Homo sapiens: one gene and its partners. The protein of the gene in region 1 binds, or shares a complex with, the protein of each later gene. Each region holds a gene or a part of one and is shown in the gene's direction. Other genes may lie near its edges.

Evidence for each region.
Region 2: SNRNP40 (region 1) and SNW1 share a complex: the UniProt entries of both Homo sapiens proteins name them as parts of the minor spliceosome.
Region 3: SNRNP40 (region 1) and SNRPD1 share a complex: the UniProt entries of both Homo sapiens proteins name them as parts of the U4/U6-U5 tri-snRNP complex.

What each region holds. Positions count from the first base shown.
Region 1 is NC_000001.11:31,290,151-31,293,803, reverse strand, and holds part of SNRNP40 (U5 small nuclear ribonucleoprotein 40 kDa protein), read left to right. Parts: intron 1-455; coding exon 456-585; intron 586-1,797; coding exon 1,798-1,891; intron 1,892-3,653. UniProt on the Homo sapiens protein: Required for pre-mRNA splicing as component of the activated spliceosome. Component of the U5 small nuclear ribonucleoprotein (snRNP) complex and the U4/U6-U5 tri-snRNP complex, building blocks of the spliceosome.
Region 2 is NC_000014.9:77,733,562-77,737,214, reverse strand, and holds part of SNW1 (SNW domain-containing protein 1), read left to right. Parts: intron 1-139; coding exon 140-244; intron 245-1,208; coding exon 1,209-1,278; intron 1,279-2,202; coding exon 2,203-2,268; intron 2,269-3,653. UniProt on the Homo sapiens protein: Involved in pre-mRNA splicing as component of the spliceosome. As a component of the minor spliceosome, involved in the splicing of U12-type introns in pre-mRNAs.
Region 3 is NC_000018.10:21,618,716-21,622,368, forward strand, and holds part of SNRPD1 (small nuclear ribonucleoprotein Sm D1), read left to right. Parts: intron 1-3,653. UniProt on the Homo sapiens protein: Plays a role in pre-mRNA splicing as a core component of the spliceosomal U1, U2, U4 and U5 small nuclear ribonucleoproteins (snRNPs), the building blocks of the spliceosome.

The sequences.
Region 1 (3,653 bases):
TTGAGACCAGCCTAGGCAACGTAGCAAGACCTCATCTCCACAAAAACTAAAAAAATTAGCATGGCATGCTAGTTCATGCCTGTAGTCCTGGCTACTCAGGAGGCTGAGGCAGGAGGATCACTTGAGCCAAGGAGTTTGAAGCTGCAGTGAACCATGATCACACTACTGCAGTCCAGCCTAGGTGACAGAGTGAGACCCTATCTCCAAAAAAAAGTTGGTCGTACAACAAGAGCTGAGAGAGTGAACAAGAGAGTCATTATAACAGGTAGATAATGGAAAGTTTCAGAGAGTGTCAAGTTGGAGGCATTCATATGAGAAGAGCTACCATTCTGTAAGTCAGATGAAACCCACTTAATCATTGTTTTCTTGGTCTTTTCCCTCCACTCCCCACCCCCTAATTTTGTAGCCTCCTTTGTCTGTATGCAGTAGTTACCTTGTGCTTCTCTTTTGTTTAGGGACCTCCAAGATGTTCCTCCCTTCAAGCCCCAATCATGCTGCTCTCTGGACATGAAGGGGAAGTCTACTGCTGCAAGTTCCACCCCAACGGATCCACCTTAGCATCTGCAGGATTTGACCGACTGATATGTGAGGCATAGTTTTTGAATCTGGAATAATTTTTCCTGCCAGATAGTGATTTTTTTTTTTAAATCTTGGGTGCCACAGAAGGTATCACTCTATGTTGGCAACATAACAGGCTGCATGGCTAATATGCTAAAATTGGGGCATGAACATGCTGAATGATCTTGGGTGTAGAACTTGGAGTCCATGGGGTAAATACAGAAGCCATTATTTTACTAGTTGGAAAGTGAGTTGTTCTGGTTTGAGAATGTCTTCCTCATAGAGGCAAATCTCCAGCTAATTTACCAAGGCACTTAGCAATCTAGACATAACAGGTTAATGGCAGTAATGAGGAGAGAAATAACTTTTATTTTCCCAAAGGTATAAGGTCCTCTTAATTCACACCCAGAATCCTAGCTAGCATATGGGAAGGAAGGAATCCTAAAGTGGTAACTCCCTTAAATAATCTACCTGTACATCATTAGGATCTACTACCAGATTTCCATTTTTGAGAAATAAGAATTTCTCATACCCATTTTTGAGAAGTAAGTAGAAAAAGTCGTTTTATTTATACTCCAGCAAATGAAGCCAGAAGGAAAAAAAATCAGATGCTTCTGTTGCTACTTTCTTGCCAGATTATGAGATGAAATGAGTTATTTGGCTCTTTTCTGTTAACTCTTTTCCTCGGTGCCGGGTGGATGATACCCGTCTTCACTGCCCATTTTGATTTGGATGTTCCGGCTCTATGATCCTTAAGCTTACTAGTGGCCAAACGTCTGGATTGCTTAGGGATCTTTGCAGAACATATATGAATTATTGATAGGCTTAATTTCATCAGACAAACTACATAGTTTTTTTTGTTTGGTTGGTCGGTTGGCTTTTTAGAGACGGAGTCTCACTCTGTCACCCAGGTTGGAGTGCCGTGGCGCGATCTCGGCTCACTGCATCCTCCGTCTCCTGGGTTCAAGTGATTCTCCTGCCTCAGTCTCCCAAGAGCTGGGATTGTAGGCGTCTGCCACTACACCTGGCTGATTTTTTTATTTTTATTAAAGATGGGGTTTCGCCGTATCAGCCACGCTGGTCTCGAACTCCTGACCTCAAGTGATCCACCCGTCTCGGCCTCCCAAAGTGCTGGGATTACAGGTGTGAGCCACCGTGCCTGACCTGAGAACTGTTGTTCTGATAAATTTATAAGTACCCTTTGCCTAGTAATGCTCACAGAACCCATCTCCCTAACAGTACTGTGGAATGTCTATGGTGACTGTGATAACTATGCCACACTGAAGGGACACAGTGGAGCAGTGATGGAATTGCATTACAACACAGATGGCAGGTGAGTATTCTGCATAATGGAAGGACAGCTTCTCATACTAATTCTTGGCGTCCTTTCACCTTTCATCCTTTCTCAGGAGACCCTGCTATCAAAAACTACTAATTTTGGGTAGCTACTTTAGTATCCGATTTATCACTGTCACCCCAAGTGAGGTGTTTATAGTCTGTGTATGCAAATATAAAGATGTTACATCGGTCATTTCAACAACCCAGACAAATTTTTCTTTTTTTAAGACATAAAATAAATGTGATTTTTATATGTAGGCTGGAGTGCAGTGACACAAACATGGCTCACTGCAGCCTCAACCTCTTGCTCGAGGGATCCTCCCACTTCAGCCTCCCAAATAGCTGGGGCCACAAGCCCACGCCTCCATGCCCAGCTAATTTTTAAAAATCATTTGTGGAGACATGGTCTTGCTATATTGCTCCTGAGCTCAAGCAGTCCACCTGCCTCAGCCTCCCAAAAATGCTGTGATTACAATAATTAACCACCATGCCTGGCCTGAAATCAGCTATTTCTATTATAAAAATCATTTCTTTTGAGAAACCAAAAAAAGCAGAAAGATGAAAAAATAGTCTATATTTCTACCACTCCAAAGATAATCAGTGTTAATTTTTTTTTTTTGAGACGGAATTTCACTCTTGTTGCCCAGGCTGGAGTGCAATGGCACGATCTCGGCTCACTGCAACCTCCGCCTCCCAGGTTCACGTGTTTCTCTTGCCTCAGCCTCCAGAATAGCTGGGATTACAGGGATGCATCACCGTGCCTGGCTAATTTTGTATTTTTTGTAGAGACTGGGTTTCTCCATGTTGGTCAGGCTGGTCTTGAACTCCCAACCGCAGGTGATCCGCCCACCTCAGCCTCCCAAAGTGCTGGGATTACAGGCATGAGCCACCGTGCCTGGCCAATCACTGTTAATTTTATACATTTTTCTAATGCCTTTTTTTCTACTCAGAACTGTTTAGTTGTTGCATATTTGTTAGAACTATGTGTACAATCTTTTTTATTTATTTATTTATTTTATTTTATTTTTTTGAGACGGAGTCTTGCTCTGTCGCCCAGTCTGGAGTGCAGTGGTGCGATCTCGGCTCACTGCAAGCTCCGTCTCCGGGGTTCACACCATTCTCCTGCCTCAGCCTCCTGAGTAGCTGGGATTACAGGTGCCCGCCACCATGCCCGGCTAATTTTTTTGTATTTTTAATAGAGATGGGGTTTCACCGTGTTAGCCAGGATGGTCTCGATCTCCTGACCTTGTGATCCGCCCGCCTTGGCCTCCCAAAATGCTGGGATTACAAGTGTGAGCCACCGCACCTGGCCAGAACTGTGTGTACAATCTTATTTGCTCCTTTTTTCTCTTAACATTGCTCAGCCAACATCTGATGTCATAAACGTCATTTTAATGACTATATTATTTTAGAATATATTATAGATAATATAGAAATCTGGCTATACAAAAGTAATTACATTGTTAGGTAGTCTGGTAAACATTCATTGTTTTACATTTCTGACCTCTAAAATCTTAGGGTGCTCCATCAATTGATACATAGCATTGTATACATTTTAAATAAAGCATTAGAAAGCTGGGCCTGGTGGCATGTGCTTATAATCCCAGCTATTTGGGAGGCTGAGGCAGGAGGATTCCTGGAGCCCAAGAGTTCAAAACCAGCCTGGGCAACACAGTGAGACTCCATCTCAAAAAAAATGAAAAAAGAAAGCATTATAAGATCAGTTATAACTTAGAAATCATCCTCAGAGGCTGGGC
Region 2 (3,653 bases), on another chromosome or scaffold:
CTAAATATTTTGTTAATTTTCTGTTAATACTTTGCGAAAGGAATTGAAAATGTAGTCTAGCTTAAGATTGTAATAGAAGGAAAATACCTACTGAAAGCTTGAACTAATTACACCTTTAGTTTTTATCTGCTTTCTTCAGATACACACCATCTCAGCAAGGAGTGGCATTCAACTCTGGAGCTAAACAGAGGGTTATTCGGATGGTAGAAATGCAGAAAGATCCAATGGAGCCTCCAAGGTTCAAGTAAGTGAAAAGGAATAGGCTACTAATACACACAATAACATGGATGAATCTCAAAACAATATGCTGAGTGAAAGAAGCCAGGCAAAAACAAGTACATACAGTATGATTCCATTTATCTAAAACTCCAGGAAATGCAAACTAACCTATAGTTACAGAAAGTAGATAGGTGGTTGCCTCTGGGGAAGGAGGTAGGGACAGAGAGGAGATGGGAGGGACAAGAGGAATAGGCAAGGGGCAAGCAGAAACTTTTGGGGATGATAGACATGTTCACTATCTTGCTTGTGATGATGATTTCACAGGTGCATATTTGTGTCAAAATTTAATCAAATCGTATGCTTTAAATATGTATAGCTAATAAATGTCAATTATCTCAATAAAGCTGCCTTTTTTTGTTTTTGTTTTTGTTTTTGTTTTTGTTTTTTGAGAGACAGTCTCGCTCTGTCACCCAGGCTGGAGTGCAGTGGCATGATCTCAGCTCACTGCAACCTCTGCCTCCTGGGTTCAAGCGATTCTCTTGTCTCAGCCTCCTGAGTAGCTGGGTTTACAGGCGTGTACCACAATGCCCAGCTAAGTTTTTGTATTTTTAGTAGAGACAGGGTTTCACCATGTTAGCCAGGATGGTCTCGATCTCCTGACGTCAGGCGATCTGCCCACCTTGGCCTCCCAAAGTGCTGGGATTACAGGCATGAGCCACTGCACCCGACCTAAAGCTGCTTTTTAAAGTGGAAAAAAGTATATTACTCTGCAAAATGACAATAATGTTGTGGAGGTGGGGTGAGTAACAGTTTCAAAGTTGGCCATGTTTTATTCATTGTCAAAGTGGAGTGGTAAATGTATATCATTATACAGTCTCTGTTTTTGTCTATGTTTGAAACTTTTATGCAAGAAAAAGGAGGAGAGACTTGATATGATGACTAAAAGGGAGGAAACTATATCACTCTCTGGTTGTGTTTTTATACTTCAGGATTAATAAGAAAATTCCCCGGGGACCACCTTCTCCTCCTGCGCCTGTCATGCATTCTCCTAGCCGAAAGGTATTCTTTGCTGTAGTCCAAAATATTTTTTTCTACTCATGGTTATTAATTTTATAGATAACCTCCCTATGCCTATACAGGTGCATGTCACCACACTGACTTGTAGTTTCTTTTTTTATTTTTCAAGATGAAGTTTCAAGAATGCTTATGAGAATGTATATAACATGTTAGCTGTAAGTTTTGTTATTAGTAATGCAAACCCTACTTTTAATGGAATGGACAGGGTCTGCTGTTTCAGTTTAAGGATGTTATAGGAAGTGAATATATGGGTTCATTAGGTCCCTGGTAATTTGACTTTTTAAGATATGTTTTGTTAATCAAAAGAACAATTTTTCATCCAAAAGAAGTCACATCGGCCGGGCGTGGTGGCTCACGCCTGTAATCCCAGCACTTTGGGAGGCCGAGGCGGGCAGATCACCTGAAGTCGGGAGTTCAAGACCGGCCTGACCAACATGGAGAAACCCCGTCTTTACTTTAAAAAAAATTAGCTGGGCATGGTGGCGCATGCCTATAATCCCAGCTACTTGGGAGGCTGAGGCAGGAGAATCACTTGAACCCAGGAGGCGGAGGTTGTGGTGAGCCAAGATTGCACCATTGCACTCCATCCTGGGCAACAAAAGCGAAACCCCGTCTCAATAAAAAAAAGAAAAAAGTCACATCACTTTAAATATGGAAAAATACTAGCCAACATTTATAACTGTCAAGAATAATTTCTAGATTATTTTCCATTTTTCACACTAGTTCAAAGTTATTACTAGAATTATATGGTAAACTAGTGCTAGCAAACAAATGGACTGCTGGCCTTTTACTACGGCTGTGCATATGTCAGTGTATATGGAGCTGTCTTTGAAGATAAAGATTATACTTAGATTTACTTTGTAGACTATAAATCTAAACTTGTCTCTTCTTTCCCTCTTCTCTCAGATGACTGTAAAGGAACAACAAGAGTGGAAGATTCCTCCTTGTATTTCTAACTGGAAAAATGCAAAGGTAATTAAGTTGTCAAATCAGTCTCTATTAGTATAACCTACTGGAAAACACCAGTAAAACAACTACAGCCTGCATAACTGTAGTTGAAACAACACGTGGTTTAACTGAGCATTTTCAAAAAGGAATGCCCAATTTGGTGACTTTTTTAATGTAATAGAAATGTTAGTATGCCAGGCACGTGAATACCGTGTCAGTTCCTTTTTTTTTTTTGAGACGGAGTCTCGCTCTGTCACTAGGCTGGAGTACGGTGGCATGATCTCAGCTCACTGCAGCCTCCACCTCCCAGGTTGAAGCGATTGCCCTGCCTCAGCCTCCTGAGTAGCTGGGACTACAGGCGCATGCCACCACGTCCGGCTAATTTTTCGTATTTTAGTAGAAACGGGGTTTCACCCTGTTGGCCAGGTTGGTCTTGATCTCCCGACCTTGTGATCCGCCGGCCTCGGCCACCCAAAGGGCTTAGATTGCAGGTGTGAGCCACCGCACCCGGCCCCATATCAGTTCTTTTAGTGAATTGTAGCTAGCAGAAGCACATAGAGAAGGAATAAGTAGAATAAAGTGTCATATAAATACAAGATGGTATTTAGAAAACTCAAATTTATATCTAAAAATTATTTCTAAAAGAAAGTAAACTGATGTAAAAGATTATATGACAAAAGAACAGAGTAAATGCTTGGATACTTTAAGTGCTTTAATATTCAACTACTGGGCTCTGTAGTAGTGAAGGCTTAAGCTATATATCTCTAATAATTGCCAAAGTTTCTAGGAGTTGTTAAGAATCTGTAGATTGTGGGATAGATTTGCTAGTTACTGTTTCATCTTCCCTGAATCATAGTTCATGATTTTATTTTTGATGGATAAAGAAGACCATTTCAGGTTTCTTAAGAGAATTTATATACTCACCCTAAACAAAGAGGTTGCCGACTGGTCTGATTTGAGTTGATTGGTATTTTGTAACTGGATGGTATCTTGAGCTGGTTCTATAATGCTTCATTTTATTATGAGACCATGGACTAAAAGTCAACATTTGAGAGACTAGTCAGATATCTGGAAAATAAAGCTAAGCCTGAAAGTTACATAGACATTCAAGTACAGTTCTTGAGTTATTGAAATGGGATGCAAAGTTTTAGAATGTAGAAATTCAGTTGTTTAGCAAACATTTTTTTTTCTTTTTTCTTTGGTTTTTTTTTTTTTTTTTTTTTTTTTTGAGACGGTCTCGCTCTGTTGCCCAGGCTGGAGTACAGTGGTATGATCATGGCTCACTGCAGCCTCAACCTCCCAGGCTCAGGCGATCCTCCCACCTCAGCCTCCCGAGTAGTTGGGACCACAAGTGTGCCCCACCATGCCTGGCTACTTTTTTGTATTTTTGGTAGAGACGGGGTTTCACC
Region 3 (3,653 bases), on another chromosome or scaffold:
TCAACTCATGAGTCTTCTTAAAGTTTGAGGCTTGTTATATCCCAGACCAAGTAATTTCTTTTTTGTGATGGCTGTCTATACCACTAAAAAAAAAGAAATTAAAAAAAGGCATTTTAAGGTTGGTTTCCCTTTATTCATTAAAACATTTCAGCCAACATTATTCAGTGCCTATTACAGTCTAGGATTAGATATAGAGCTTACGATCCCTACCCTCAAGAATAGTCTAGTGCGGGAGGATAATAGGTTATCTTATGTGTACCATTTAGTGTGATGATAGGATCTGTTAATTCAAAGTATATATTATAGACTAAAAGTTTTTATATGAACTGTGTATTGTATGATAGTGTGGGGTTCATTTTCTTAGATGTGATTGTGAGATTATGGTTATATAGGAGAATGTCATTAGAAAATGCATGCTGAAGTGTCGTAATGCCTACAACTTACTTTGAGATGGTGTGATCAATTTTTTTTCGTTTGTTTTTTTGACAAAGTCTCACTCTATTGTCCAGGCTGGAGTTTAGTGGTGCAGTCTTGGCTCACTGCAACCTCTGCCTCCCAGGCTCAAGCAATTCTCCTGCCTCAGCCTCCCCAGTAGCTGGGATTACAGTCAAGTGCCACCAAGTCTGGCTAATTTTTTTGTATTTTTAGCAGAGACGGGGTTTCGCCATGTTGGCCAGGCTGGTCTCGAACTTCTGACCTCAGGTGATCCGCCTGCCTCGCCCTCCCAAAGTGCTGGGATTACAGGGATGAGCCACCACACCTGGCGAAGACTGTCTTTAAAAAAAAGGGCCAGGCCTGGTGGCTTACGCCTGTAATCCCAGCACTTTGGGAGGCCAAGGTGGGCAGATCACCTGAGGTCAGAAGTTCGAGACCAGCCCAACGGGTGAAACCCTGTCTCTACTAAAAATACAAAAATCAGCCAGGTGTGGTGGCAGGCGCCTGTAGTCCCAGCTACTTGGGAGGCTGAGGCAGGAGAATTGCTTGAACCCAAGAGGTGGAGGTTGCATTGAGCCAAGATCATGCCACTGCACTCCAGCCTGGGTGACAGAGCGAGACTCCGTCTCAAAAAAAAATAGAATTTTAAAAAAAGACGGAGTCTTGCTCTGCCACACAGGCTCCAGGGCAGTGACACAGTCATGGCTCATTGCAGCCTCAAAGTCCTGGGCTCTAGCGATCCTCCCACCTCAGACTCCGAGGAGCTGAGACTACAGGCATGAGCCAACAGGCCCAGCTAATTTTTTTATTTGTATTTTTTTCGAGATGGAGTCTTGCTCTGTCACCCAGGCTGCAGTGCAATGGCATGATCTTGGCTCACTGCAACCTCTGCCTCCCAGGTTCAAGCGATTCTGCTGCCTCAGCCTCCTGAGTAGCTGGGATTACAGACCTGCACCACCACACCTGGCTAATTTTTTGTATTTTTAGTAGAGATGGGATTTCACCATATTGGCCAAGCTGGTCTCCAACTCCTGACATTGTGACCCGCCCACCTTGGCCTCCCAAAGTGCTGGGGTTACAGGCATGAGCTACCGCACCCGGCCAACTAATTTTTTTTTTATTTTTATTTTTGTAGAGACAGGATCTTGCTTTGTTGACCAGGCAGGTCTCGAACTCCTGGCCTCAAGTGATCATCCCACCTTGGCCTCTCAAAGTGGTGAAATTACAGGCATGAGCCACTGCACTGGCAATTGACAATATTTGTAAACCCTTTAACTTTTCATCCTCTGCAAAATTTTATAAAAAGGGGAGAACGGAAATTTAGATGAAGTGAGAAGTGGATAGATTGTTCATTATATATTATCAAGGCAACTGGCTATTCAGTTGGGGAAAGTAATAAAGACAGATTTGTGCCTTACACTGCATAAAAAAGATCAATTCCAAGTAGATTAGAACTCTAAAAGTAGAAGAAAATAAGACACTATTTTTTTACAATCTTGGCATAGAAAAAACCCTTTCTTAGGTAAATTATGTATCCCAGGAGGGTGAACAAATTCAAAACATAAAAGTGAAAAAAGTTTGTGTGACTAAAGAAACCATAAACAACAAACTTGAATGACTGGCAAACCAGTAGAAAATAAAAGAAAAACTCAACCTAATTGAGAATGTCAATAATGTGAACAGGTAATTCACGGAAGAAATAGTTTTCCCATGTTAATGAAAAGATATTCAGGCAGGGCGCGGTGGCTCATGCCTGTAATCCCAGCACTTTGGGAGGCCGAGGCGGGTGGATCACGAGGTCAGAAGATCAAGGCCATCGTGGTTAACATGGTGAAACCCCGTCTCTACTAAAAAAAAAATACAAAAAATTAGCCAGGTGTGGTGGCGAGCGCCTGTAATCCCAGCTACTCGGGAGGCTGAGGCAGGAGAATGGCGTGAACCTAGGAGGCGGAGGTTGCAGTGAGCCGAGATTGTGCCACTACACTCCAGCCTGGGTGACAGAGCGAGACTCTGTGTCAAAAAAAAAAGATAAGATATTCAATCTCACAGGTAATTAAGGAAAAGCAAATTTTTTCCCCATCAAATTGACAAAAATTTGAAAGACTTATAGCAACTTGTGTTGGTGAGGGTTTGCATAATTGGGTTTGTAATGGGAAAAAATTGAACCAAAGTAATGTCCGTCAACAGGCGGTAATAAATTTTGACATTTCCATATAGTGGAATACTTTCCAGTTCTTAGAATGTTATTTTGTTATTTTGGCTTTTTGTGAGATGGAGTCTTGCCCTGTCACTCAGGCTGGGGTACAGTGGAACAATCTCACCTCACTGCAAATGCTGCCTCCCGGGTTCAAGCGATTCTCATGCCCCAGCCTTCCAAGTAGCTGGGATTACAGGCGTGCGCCACCTTGCCTCGCTAATTTATTTTTATTTTTTTTTAATTTTTTTTGAGATGGAGTCTTGCTCTGTCCCCAGGTTGGAGTGCAGTGGTGCGATCTTGGCTGACTGCAATCTCTGCCTCCCAGGTTTAAGCGATTCTCCTGCCTCAGCCTTCTGAGTAGCTAGGATTACAGGCGTACGCCATCCTGCCCAGCTAATTTTTGTGTTTTTGTAGAGATGGAGTTTCACCATGTTGGCCAGGCTGGTCTTGAATTCCTGACCTCAGATGATCCGCCCTCCTCGGCCTCCCAAAGTGCTGGGATTATAAATAGGCATGAGCCATCACGCCCAGCCTCAGTTCTTAGAATGTTTTGTATGTTGAAATGGAAATATGTCCAATATAAACTGCTAAACGAGGACTACAAGTTATAGACGTGAATAAAATATGACCCAATTTATGTCAAAAGAAATCTGTATATATCCTTCTGAATGCATATAAAGTGATCTGGAATAATATTCCTACATACCCACAGTGCAGGGGGTTAGGAAGGGAGATTTTTACTTTATAGGCATTATAATAAGCTTGTAATCTTTTTACCGACTGTAATTCTTTATTTCTTTTTTTTTTTTTGAGACGGAGTCTCGCTCTGTTGCCCAGGCTGGAGTGCAGTGGCGTGATCTCGGCTCACTGAGAGCTCTGCTTCCCAGGTTCACCCCATTCTCCTGCCTCAGCCTCCCGAGTAGCTGGGACTACAGGTGCCCGCCACCATGCCCAGCTAATTTTTTGTATTTTTTAGTAGAGACGGGGTTTCACCATGTTAGCCAGGATGATCTCGATCTCC